2 separate regions of the Homo sapiens genome follow, and region 2 is linked to region 1. The links come from fine-mapping of genetic effects on gene expression. A gene starts in region 1. The other region holds a variant in brackets. All regions are shown on one strand. Distances are between the middles of the regions. Region 1 holds the start of LINC02052 (long intergenic non-protein coding RNA 2052). Region 2 overlaps LINC02052 (long intergenic non-protein coding RNA 2052).

Region 1 (5,377 bases):
AGCTTCTGGCTTTTTAAGAGAAGCCAAAGAGCTGGGTTTTTATGCAAAATATCCCAAAGTTTAAAGATTGGTAACAGATTCACAAAAATGCAGAACACGATATGGTCTGGATGAGATGAATCTTATTCCATGACTACCAGTGTTGTGCTTTTTCAGTTCTTTCACTATTGACCTGACCTGTCCTCCAATGACTGGGGAATTCCTTTGCTTTATTTTCGTTTTGTTTTGTTTAGACAGGGTCTCACATTGTCACCCAGGCTGGAGTGCAGTGGCACGTTCTTGGCTCACTGCAGCTTCGACCTCACAGGCTCAAGGAATACTCCCACCTCAGCCTCCCAAGTAGCTGGGACTACAGGCACACACCACCATGCTCACCTAATTTTTTGTATTTTTTGTAGAGACAGGGTTTCACCATGTTGCCCAGGCTGGTCTTGAACCTCTGAGCTCAAGTGATCCACCCAACTCAGCCTCCCAAAGTGCTGGGATTACAGGCATGAGCCACCGCGCCAGGCTGAATTCTTTCTTTACTTCCTATTCAGGCTCCTAAGGAAAGAAAACCAGCTGACCCAGCCAATCCTTTTGGGTCAGATCAGGTCAGGCCGTGTTTAGTTTGTCTTAAGGTCAGGGATCTACTCCTGCCTACTCTAATCAGCTGTGGCCAGCAGGCAAGACGGGATGTGGGAGCAAAGTGCATTCCCACTTTCGTATGACTCCAAAGCCCACTCTAAACTCCTGCACTCCATCCTGCCTCTCAGTTAGGTCAGAAGTCTGAAAAGGTCTGAAGTGACTTTTGTAGATATTACACTTTCCAAGAAGGGCTTTGGTGAAGAGGTATTTCAGCTTCCTCCTAAAGTGGCACCAGCTTCTTCTTTTTCTTTTCTCCCCGGCCCTCCACCCATGTTTTGTTCCATTTCTCCTAGTCTCCATACAAATCCAGCAAAGTGATTTTCTTGCCGGCTAGTAAAATTATAAAAACGATTTAAACTGCTCTTTTTCTCTCTTAAAACAGCTTTCTCCCTGTCAGTAAGAAGCAGGAAGATGAATGAAAGAAAACAGGTCAGCATTTCTAGCTTTTCAAGCTGTTTTTCAATAAGGAAAGAGGCAAAGAAAACTCCAGAGATGGATATGAATTGCATTGAAAACATTTCCTCCAGGAGAAAAGTCGCTGCTTCCCTGAGAGGGCTCATTTATTGATTTAATCAGCCTGCAGGAGCACCTTCTCCAGTAAAAGATGTTGAGTTGGAGTGGCCTGGTCTGCAGTGTGTGCTTACGGTGCTGATAGCACCACTGCCGCTGATGCCGACGGTGCTTTTCACCTGTGCCCACACGTGTGATGGGGGAAGATGCACCTCCCTGTGAATGCTGGCGTGCTCCATGTCACTCCAGGATGTCACTTGTCCTGATGTCCTATCTGAGTTCTCTGTAGGCATGCTACAAGAAATCTGATGACTTTGGGAGAAAGAAGATGATACATTCTTTTTTTTTTTTTTTTTTGAGACAGAATCTTGCTTTGTTGCCCAGGCTGGAGTGCAGTGGCTCAATCTCAGCTCACTGCAACCTCTCAACTTCTGCCTCCCGGGTTCAAGCGATCCTCCTGCCTCAGCTGCCCACATAGCTGGGATTACAGGCATCCACCACCATGCCTTGCTAATTTTTGTATTTTTAGTAGAGTCGGGGTTTCACCATGTTGGCCAGGCTAGTCTGGAATTCCTGATCTCAAGTGATCCATCCACCTCGGCCTCCCAAAGGGCTGGAATTACAGGCGTGAGCCACCGCGCCCGGCCAGATGATACATTCTTGATTCCCCCAAATTCCTAGAGTGTAAGAGCCAGAAGGACCCTCCACTCAACCCCTTTATCGTACAGATGAGGAAACTGAGGCCCGAGAGGCAACCTGCCCACTTGTTGTGACTGAGAGCTGAACCTCAAGGAGGACTGGTCTTTCCTATAAAACTCTCCCCTCAGAGTTGCTCTGGACTGATAGAGAAAAACGTGCACCCAGTCTCCAGGGGCAAGAGCAAGGCCCTATAAAAAGGATGATCTGTGTATTTATTCTGTCTCTTGTTGTCTTTGGCACGGCTCTGCCTGCCAGTCCTTAACCCTTTGCAGAGCTCTGGGCAGCGTCTCCATGGTGGATTAGGGTCTAATCACTAGGAGAAGGGCGAGGGCAAGCTCTTGAAAGAGTAGCAAATATGGAAAGTTCCCGAGTGAGCGTTAGGGGAGATGTACTGGGGGACCGGGGGGACGGACCTGGAGGGAGAACGAGGGCGCGAGAAAACCGTCTTCCAGGACTTCCCACCAGCGGAATGGCACTTTTGACAGATTTTCCTTATTTGTCTGTGAAGGGGATTCAGATCATTCAAGATGGACTCAAGTGGTTGCTAAGGCAACAGTGTTACAGTCGTCACTGTCATGGAAACCCGTTCTGTGGCGTAATATAAATATTTTCCTTTAGGAATGAGAAAGAGAGTTGAGTGGGCGACAAGTTGTTTTCTAATGCTCACGCGCTATGGCCGAAGTCTGCAATGGATGGGAGAAAGGGGAGGACCAAATTAGCTCAGATTCTTTACAGTTCACAGCATCAGCTGTTTTATTTATTTGTTTTAGATAGCGAAGCCAAAAAAAGTTGGATGGGGGCAAAAATGCCAACTAAAATAGCTCATAGTTCTGAAGTAGAGAGAAGTCAGAATTTCCCGTTTTCTCTTGTTTCTCTCAGGGATGGTCTATATGACTGGCGCTCCTTGGAAGCAGTGCTGAGGGCATTATCAAGAGTTTCCAGGGCCTCCTCTTTCTCCTGAAACCTTCTTCAAGGAGGGTAAAGTTTTAAGAGAGTTCAAAAGTACCACAGACTTCCAGGGAATAGTAGTTTTTGTCGTGACAAGCATGGACATTTTCTTGCGTCATGTACTATTTCAGAAGGTAGAGACCACAAAAAGGCTTCTTACTGTGGCCACCGTGGACATCTTCCCACATCTACAAGGTGTTGTGGCCACATCATTGCTGCACCCAGTTTCCTCAGAAGAAATACCTGTTGCTTAGGTGGGGAGACAGAACCCATTTACCTGGGAGGTAACTTCCAACGCCAAGATTCTAGAATTTCATGGTTCTTCTCTCAATAGTTTATGATTCTAACAGTCAATGGTTCTGTATTCAAAGATTCTCTGGTTTTATTATTCTAAGAGCCTGCTTTTAAAAATTGGGTGTCAGAGCAAGCCCCGAGGGCAGCAGCTGTGGGCAGGCTGGAGGAAATGGTCCCTGTTTAGGTGCTGCACTGGTCTCTGCATGATCAATCCCAGCGCCCAGAACACCGATATCAAGGCCTTTGCCTGGCTCTTCTCCAGATGGTTTTCTATTGCAGGAGTTTTGCTGGCAGAGAGCTTATGAAGAAACAGGCTTACAGAAGGCACGGCCAGGCTGCAGGGATGACTGGGACCTGAAAACAGCCAGCATCATCATTCTTGAAAGTTTGCTGACTTTCCTGTATTTATTTTCCATGGACTATGAGGAGGAGAATAATAGTGGTTCTCTAATCAAGGGGCATTCACAGAGGGGCCTAGCCAGGCAGCCTGACCCTGTAGACCTGCTCTGCTCCAGAGAACAGTGGAGGGGAGGGTGGCTTTGCATGGAAGCTTACACTATAGTAGGATGAAAAGATTGGCTTGGGAGACTGTGAAGGCTCAAAATTTTTATTCCAGTCTATCTACTAGCTCCCAGGGGATGTGTCTGGGAGAGCTCTCAGTTGTGTGATGCTGGGAGGAGCTTTAGATCCCCTCAGCCCTGGCTTACTGGTCTGCAATGGGAGAATAGCACAATTAATGGAGCAGACAATAACCAAATCTGTTAAATGATTTCAGGTTTAGAAACGAGGCATGTATACGTATTTAACAGTTCTCAGAATGTCAAGGATCCCTCCTCAGAGCAAGAGCTCGAATTTACAAAAGAAGCACTACCTCCTTTATCACATAGTAAAATAAAGGACCGTGTCTGCTCCAGGACATGGCTGGTTACAATTTTGTTTTAAAGAAATCACCAGGTGGGTGCATGGATAAGGGATCCTTGATAAGTTGTTTTTTTTTTTCCTCCTCACTGTGTAAACAGCTTTATTGCTGTTTCAGTTTATATAATTAACACTTGCTCTTTGGAACAATTTGAACAGTGTATAAAAGTGTAGGAAATAACTTAAAAGTTCATCTTCCCACAGGAGCTGAATTTTATGAAATAATTAATTAATTAAAATAAAAAACCATTTAAAATCCCACCACCCTGAGATGATCCCATCAGCCACTTGTTGACAATATTTTGCATATACATAAGTTTTAGACATACACATATTTAACATAAATGAGATATTTTTATTTTGGGAGATATTTTTATATCTCCCAAATCAGTCTTTTGCTGTCTTACCTTCCTGCTTCCCTTCTGCATGTCTCTTTATCTGCACCAACTCTCCTTCCCATTCCAGGTAACCCCTGAAAACCACCTGGTGTAAGCCACCTTGTCTAGAAACCAGGGAGGCAGGGAAGAAATAAGAAGCATATTCTAGAAATCTCTTCAAGTCTTCTGAAACAGATCTAACCCTTTTATTAGCTTAGTTCCCGGTCGTTTTCTGGTTTTTGTTTGTGTACTTGTTTTCCTTTTGTTTGGATTTTAGTTGGGGGTTTGGGTGGCTACTTGGAACACGGGTGCCATGAATAATATTGAATCTATGGTCATTAAACGCCCATGGACTCTTGCTTCTATCAGATAGATTCCAAGGAGAGGGACTCATGAAGGGAAGAGTACGTAGATTTTTTCATTTTAAAAGGTAGAGCAAAGTTGATCTCCAAAAGAGGCACTATCACATTTCTACTTATGAAGAAAGACAGTATCTGGGGGGAAACTTCACCCCAATATTCCCATTAACTAGTAGCTGTTTTCATTCTCTTCAACTTTTTGCTATTCAGGTGGGGCTAAAGTGATACCTCATAATTTTTTTCTTTTTCTTTTTCTTTTTTTAAGATGGAGTTTCACTCTTGTTGCCCAGGCTGGAGTGCAATGGCGTGATCTCGGCTCACTGCAACCTCCGCCTCCCGGGTTCAAGCAATTCTCCTGCCTCAGCCTCCCAAGTAGCTGGGATTACAGGCAGGTGCCACCATGCCCAGCTAATTTTTGTATTTTTAGTAGAGACAGGGCTTCACTCTGTTGGTCAGGCTGGTCTTGAACTCCTGACCTCAGGTGATCCGCCTGCCTTGGCCTCCCAAAGTGCTGGGATTACAGGCATGAGCCACCGCACCTGGCCAATACTTCATAATTTTTAAGGGCTGCATTCCTCTAATTATTGGGGGTGCTGGGCATATTTTTATATATTTATTGGCCACTTTGTATTTCTGTAAATTGTC
Region 2 (5,377 bases), 38 kb after region 1:
GGAGGGTCCACACCCAGAGAAGGCATGGAAGCTGACCCCTTCCCCATACCTTGCTCTTTGCATCTCTTCCATTTGGCTGTTCCCGAGTTGTATACTTTGTAATAAGTGGGATTTCCACCCAACAACAATTCAGCCACACTGCTTCACACATCTAGAATCCATCCAAAATTGTAAAGGCTTTGTGGCACTACAGTGAAACAGGCAAGAACATCTTCCAAACATGTAAGTAGAGTGTTTCCCTGAGTTCTGTGAGCCATTCTAGCAAACGATTAAACCCAATGAGGCAGCTGCGAGAACCTTCCGTGTAGCCAGGTCAGAGAGAAGTTGCGGGTAACCTGGGGACCTACTACTCGCGATTGATGTCTGAAGTGAGAATTGGTCTTGTGGGACTGGGATCTTAACCTGTGGGGTCTGCACTAACTCTAGCTACTGTCAGAATTGAATTAAATTGTAATTCAATTACAATTAAATCTACAGAGAATTAGAGAATTGCTTGATGTGGGGGAAAACCCCACACATTTTGGTGACCAAAAATGTTGTGAGAGTACAAAAGAGAGCATAAAGCAGTTTTTTGTTTTGTTGTTTTGTTTTGTTTTGTTTTGTTTTCCTATAGACAGACTATGTCTCTTCTCCCGGGCCCCTCAAAAGGTGCTGCCTCCCCTTCTTCTCTCTTTAGCCAGCACAAGAGCACACAGGAGGCCGGCATAATCACGAATTGCAGCTGTCTGAAGGGCAGTCACATAAAAGAGGAGAAGCTTCACCTTTGCTTCACAAGGCACATCTTGAACCAGGGATGGAAATTACAGAGAGGCCAAAACCAGCTCGGTGTGAGCAGGACTGGTAACAGACTGGCCAAGCAACAGAAGGGGCTGCCCTGTGAAGAAGCAAGCTCTCTGTCAATGGGAGGTGCAAGCTGAGCCTGCACTACCTTTTGTCACGGTTGCTATGGAAAAGATTAAGAGCCCGGTATTAACTATCTATTGCTACATAACAGAATACCACACAACTTAAAAGCTTAAACAACACATTTTTATCATGTCACAATGTTTGGGGTCAGGGATTCTGGAGTGGCTTAGCTGGGTGGGGTCTCCGGGTTGGTCTCTCGTGAGGCTCCAGTCTAGATGTTGGCTGGGGATGCAGTCGTCTGTCAGCTTGGCGAGGGCTGGATGATCTGCTTCCGGAATGGCCCACTCACATGGCTGTGGGAAACAGGCCTCAGCCCCTCTCCATGTGGCTTCTCCATAGGGCTGCTTGAGTGTCTGCATGACATGGCAGCTGGCTCCCTGAAGAGCACGTGATCCGAAAGAGAGAGCAAGACAGAAGCGCAGTGTCTTCAACAGCATATCTTTGAAAGTCATATTCCACCGTTTTCACTACATTCTATTGATAAGTGAGTCACTCAGAATAGCCTACATTCAAGAGGAGAGGAATGAGGCTGCATTGAAGGGAGCACACTGCAAAGAATGTGTGGATTTATTTTAAAACCACTATAAGCCCCTTCAGTGCTGAGTTATTGTGATGCCTTATGCATTCCGAAGCCAAACGTGGATGTGATTTTAATTAGCAGCGATGCTAAGCTCTTTTGCTAATGCTACTAAAAAACACAGGAGTCTCTGCATTGTTCCATCCCCAGTAGGTAGCTTAAGATGCTCTATTTAATTCAGTACAATACAGATTTATTAACCACTCTCTCTGTCTGTAGGGCCTGGCTGTTCCCACCTCAAACCACTTCTTAGCTTCATTTGTTCTCATAACAACAGGATAGCCCTTCCTCCTCTGGGGGCCTGGGCATCAGCAAGTCGGATGGCAGTGGAAGGTGGAGAAATGGAATCCTGCTGGGGGCTCAGGAGGCCTGCCCCCTGATGCTGCCGTGCACTGCAGATGTCCTTGATGAAGAGAATGAATGGAAGGTATTGGAAGGGAGCTGAAGTTCAACAAATGACCACCTAATGAAAAAGTCAGCAGTGGATTGCTTGAGATCTTGAGCACCCTGTACTGTTATTAGTATTTATAAACATGTTTGAAAGATGTTCCCTTCCTTCACTGTAGTGCCAGAAAGCCTTTAACATATTGGGTCCGGTCTAGATTTGTAAGGAAGTATGGCTGAATTGTTATCGGGTGGATACAGTTTACATGTTTAAAGGTTAGTTTTGTTTAATAGTCAGATTTCTATAGCCCAGGGGACGAGGTGGTGGCTACAGTGCAGAATGGTCTCAGGGGGACATGTATGTATAATGCAATGGCATCTGTTTATCTTACAGCTGTCTTTCTCAATGGCAAAAGGGCATACTGCTGTTATTGTCAGTGAGGGGTCAGTAGGTAAGAGAGAGAGAAATGGTAACAGAAAGTGCTTCCTTAAGTGAAATTAGGGGAGTGTGTATGTGTGTGTGTGTGTGTGTGTGTGTGTGTGTGTGTGTCTTTGGGGTGGGGGAGTGGTAAATGCATATTTAGTTAGCGAAAGTGCCAGGCTTACAGTATCTCTAAAATTAATGCTCATAGCGGCCATATAAATAAGTATTATTATTCTTTTCAGTTTAAATGATGAAACTCTGGGGATCAGCGTAAAGTAAACCAACATACTGCATGTAAGTATCAAGTAAATGAGCAGAGACAGCCCCTGGTTTACAAACACCTGACTTAAGCATCGTCCATCCTACAGGTAAATTCCTCATTCTTACTGCTGTGAGAACAATTGTTAGGAGCCAAAAACTTCAGAGCTTTCAAAGAACTGTAATGAGATAGCACAATGCAGGCAAAAAGCCAGTGTTAACGGAGCAAGAAACTTCCCAGTTCTGACATTCACAGCATGACCTAGAGCATGCGGATTCCCCTCTCTGAGTCACTGGTTTCTCACCTGCAAAAGAAAGCGGGGTGCGTGTATTTATGGGAGTAGGGTGGGTTTTGGCTAAGCACAGGAGTCATCTGGGTGGCTTCATACACAGATAAAGGGCTCATCCCACCAGGTCGGGCTTTTGAACCCGAAATGTTTGGCGTGACGGTGGGGGCACCTATTCTGAGAAACTACCTCTCCAGGGGTTGCAGTCACACAGCCCTTGCCAATCAGTGTCTGGGAACCAGGGACCTGATCATCTCTAAGGTGCCTCCAAGATCCAGCACTTAATTCCATTTTAGGACA[G/A]GGAAGGAGGAAGAAGCTTCGAGAGGCTGGAACAGTTGAGGGAGCGCTGACACGGTAAAGGCCACTTTGCTCATCATCACCAGGCGTGCTGCCGAAAATTTCCACTCTGTTTACTCCCAAGACCTTACTCCTACTATGTGGAGACACATTTGAATAAAAAATTGGCCTCTTTTCAAAGTCAAAATTCTGAGCCAGCTTGAAGGGATTGTTTTTGGTCAAACCTGCATCAATTTGGGCATCAAAATAAATAATGCTACCAATTTATTGCACCCTATTGAATAGAATAGCAAGTCATGAGTCTATGTTCATATAAATAAGTAAAACTGAGGAGAAGGGAAAGCTCTCTTTTATAGTAGAAATCCATCTAATAGGTGTAGAAGAAAATGATAAAGTTAGAAAATCACCATTTGGCCACCATTGTAGTAATCATGGATTCAGCTAAAAATCATCAATGGATGCTGGAACAAATGAGTGAAAGTTTAATGAGGGTCAGAATATTTATATGGCCTCACAGTGTATCCTTATACAATTCTTAATAATTACTGACAAAATTCTTACTAACTTTATGAGAAACCTGGCAGAAACCATCTTCACCTGGTAACAGAAGCTAACAGCACTGCTTGGGTCAAGTGGGCACTGTGTGCCACCTGATAGGATGGACCGAGGACACGGCACTGCTTCCGTGGCATTCCTGCCAAACACATGTGAAGTGCCCAGTCTCAGGACCAAGACAGGAGACGTAACAAATGAATGCAGTGTGTGGTTGTGTATTGCATCCCAAACCAGAAAGGAAAGGGGGTAAAGGAAAGATGGCATTGTTGTTGTTATTTCTTTCTTTCTTTATTTTCTTTTGAGAGAGACGGAGTCTTGCTCTGTCACCCAGGCTGGAGTGCAGTGGTGCGAACTTGGCTCACTGCCACCTCCACCTCCCAGGTTCAAGTGATTCTCCTGCCTCAGCTTCCCAAGTAGCTGGGACTACAGGCATGCACCACCACGCCCGGCTAATTTTTGTATTTCTAGTAGAGACAGGGGTTTTACCATGTTGGCTAGGCTGGTCTCAAACTCCTGACCTCAGGTGATCCACCTGCCTCGGCCTCCCAAAGTGCTGGGATTACAGGTGTGAACCACCGAGCCCAGTCTTCTTGTTGTTGTATTTCTATAAAAAATATTGGGATAATCAGCAAAAGTTGAGTGGAGGCTGTAGATTAGAGAAGTGTGTTGTGTAAACATTAAGGTACTGATTTTGGCCAAGCGTATTGAGGCTATGCAAGAGAGTGCTCTTGTTCTTAGTAGCTTGTCTCAGTCCATTTTCAGTTGCTATCACTGAATGCCAGAGACTGGGTAATTCACAAAGAAAAGAAATGTATTTCTCATAGTCCTGGAGGTTGGGAATTCCAAGGTGTAGGGGCCACATGTGGTGAGGGCCTTCTTGCTGGTGGTGACTGTCTGCAGAGTCCGGAAGTGTGCAGGGCATCACATGGCATGGAGGCAAGTGCATGCAAGTGTCAGCACAAGTGTGTCTTCCTCTCTTTATAAAGCTACCAGTCCCATCACGGGGGCCCTGCCCTGATGACTTTATCTAATCCTAATTACCTAGACTCCACGTCCAATCAACATAGGAATTTTAATTGGATTTCCTAACCTCTTAATACCATCACAATGACAACTAAATTTCAACACATGAATTGGGGGGCGGGAGGCACATTCAAACCATAGCAGAGATGCACACAGAAGTATTTGGGGATATGCTTGCAACTTAGTTCTGAGTGGTTCCGAAAAATAAATATGCGTGTATACATATGAGTGTGTATGTGTGAAGAGACAGAATAACACTGATATGTTTTAAAACAGAGTATCTAGAAAATCTCTTTTGTAACTTTTCCATAAGTGTGAAATTATTCTTTTTTTAAGGTTAGAAAAAAAATTTAAAATCAAATACCCTTAGGTGGGGTTTTGGGTCATCGATCATTTATATCTTACTGCGAATTAGTCTGATCAGATTCCTTCCATTTTAATGAGATCTTGAAACACTTTCGGGGTTAGAATAGTCAGGCAAAATAGCGGTGCTACCATGGAAAACCTAAAAATCATAAAAATACCCAGAAGTGAAGGACAAGGACCCAAGGAAGAAGGTAGAAGAGAAATTCAGAAAATGAGGCAAGAGTGAGTGAGTAGTAGTCCTCAAATTTGCCTGGAGCTGAGAAGACATCAGCCTGACTTCCCTTTCTCGGTCATGCTCTT

Evidence for each region.
Region 2: its variant is fine-mapped to the expression of LINC02052 in testis (GTEx, PIP above 0.99).

What each region holds. Positions count from the first base shown.
Region 1 is chr3:186,490,767-186,496,143 of GRCh38, reverse strand. LINC02052 (long intergenic non-protein coding RNA 2052) reads left to right here and starts at 2,483. Exons shown (of 8, transcript NR_033844.1): 1 at 2,483-3,038; 2 at 3,854-4,032. RefSeq lists an enhancer at 510-804.
Region 2 is chr3:186,452,930-186,458,306 of GRCh38, reverse strand. It overlaps LINC02052 (long intergenic non-protein coding RNA 2052), which reads left to right. Exons shown (of 8, transcript NR_033844.1): 4 at 677-966; 5 at 1,703-2,143; 6 at 2,262-2,319; 7 at 2,534-2,871; 8 at 3,133-3,326. Among named protein-coding and RNA genes, the nearest start is that of LINC02020, 15 kb to the right of the region's middle. The variant G/A (reference allele first, on the strand shown) is at 3,137.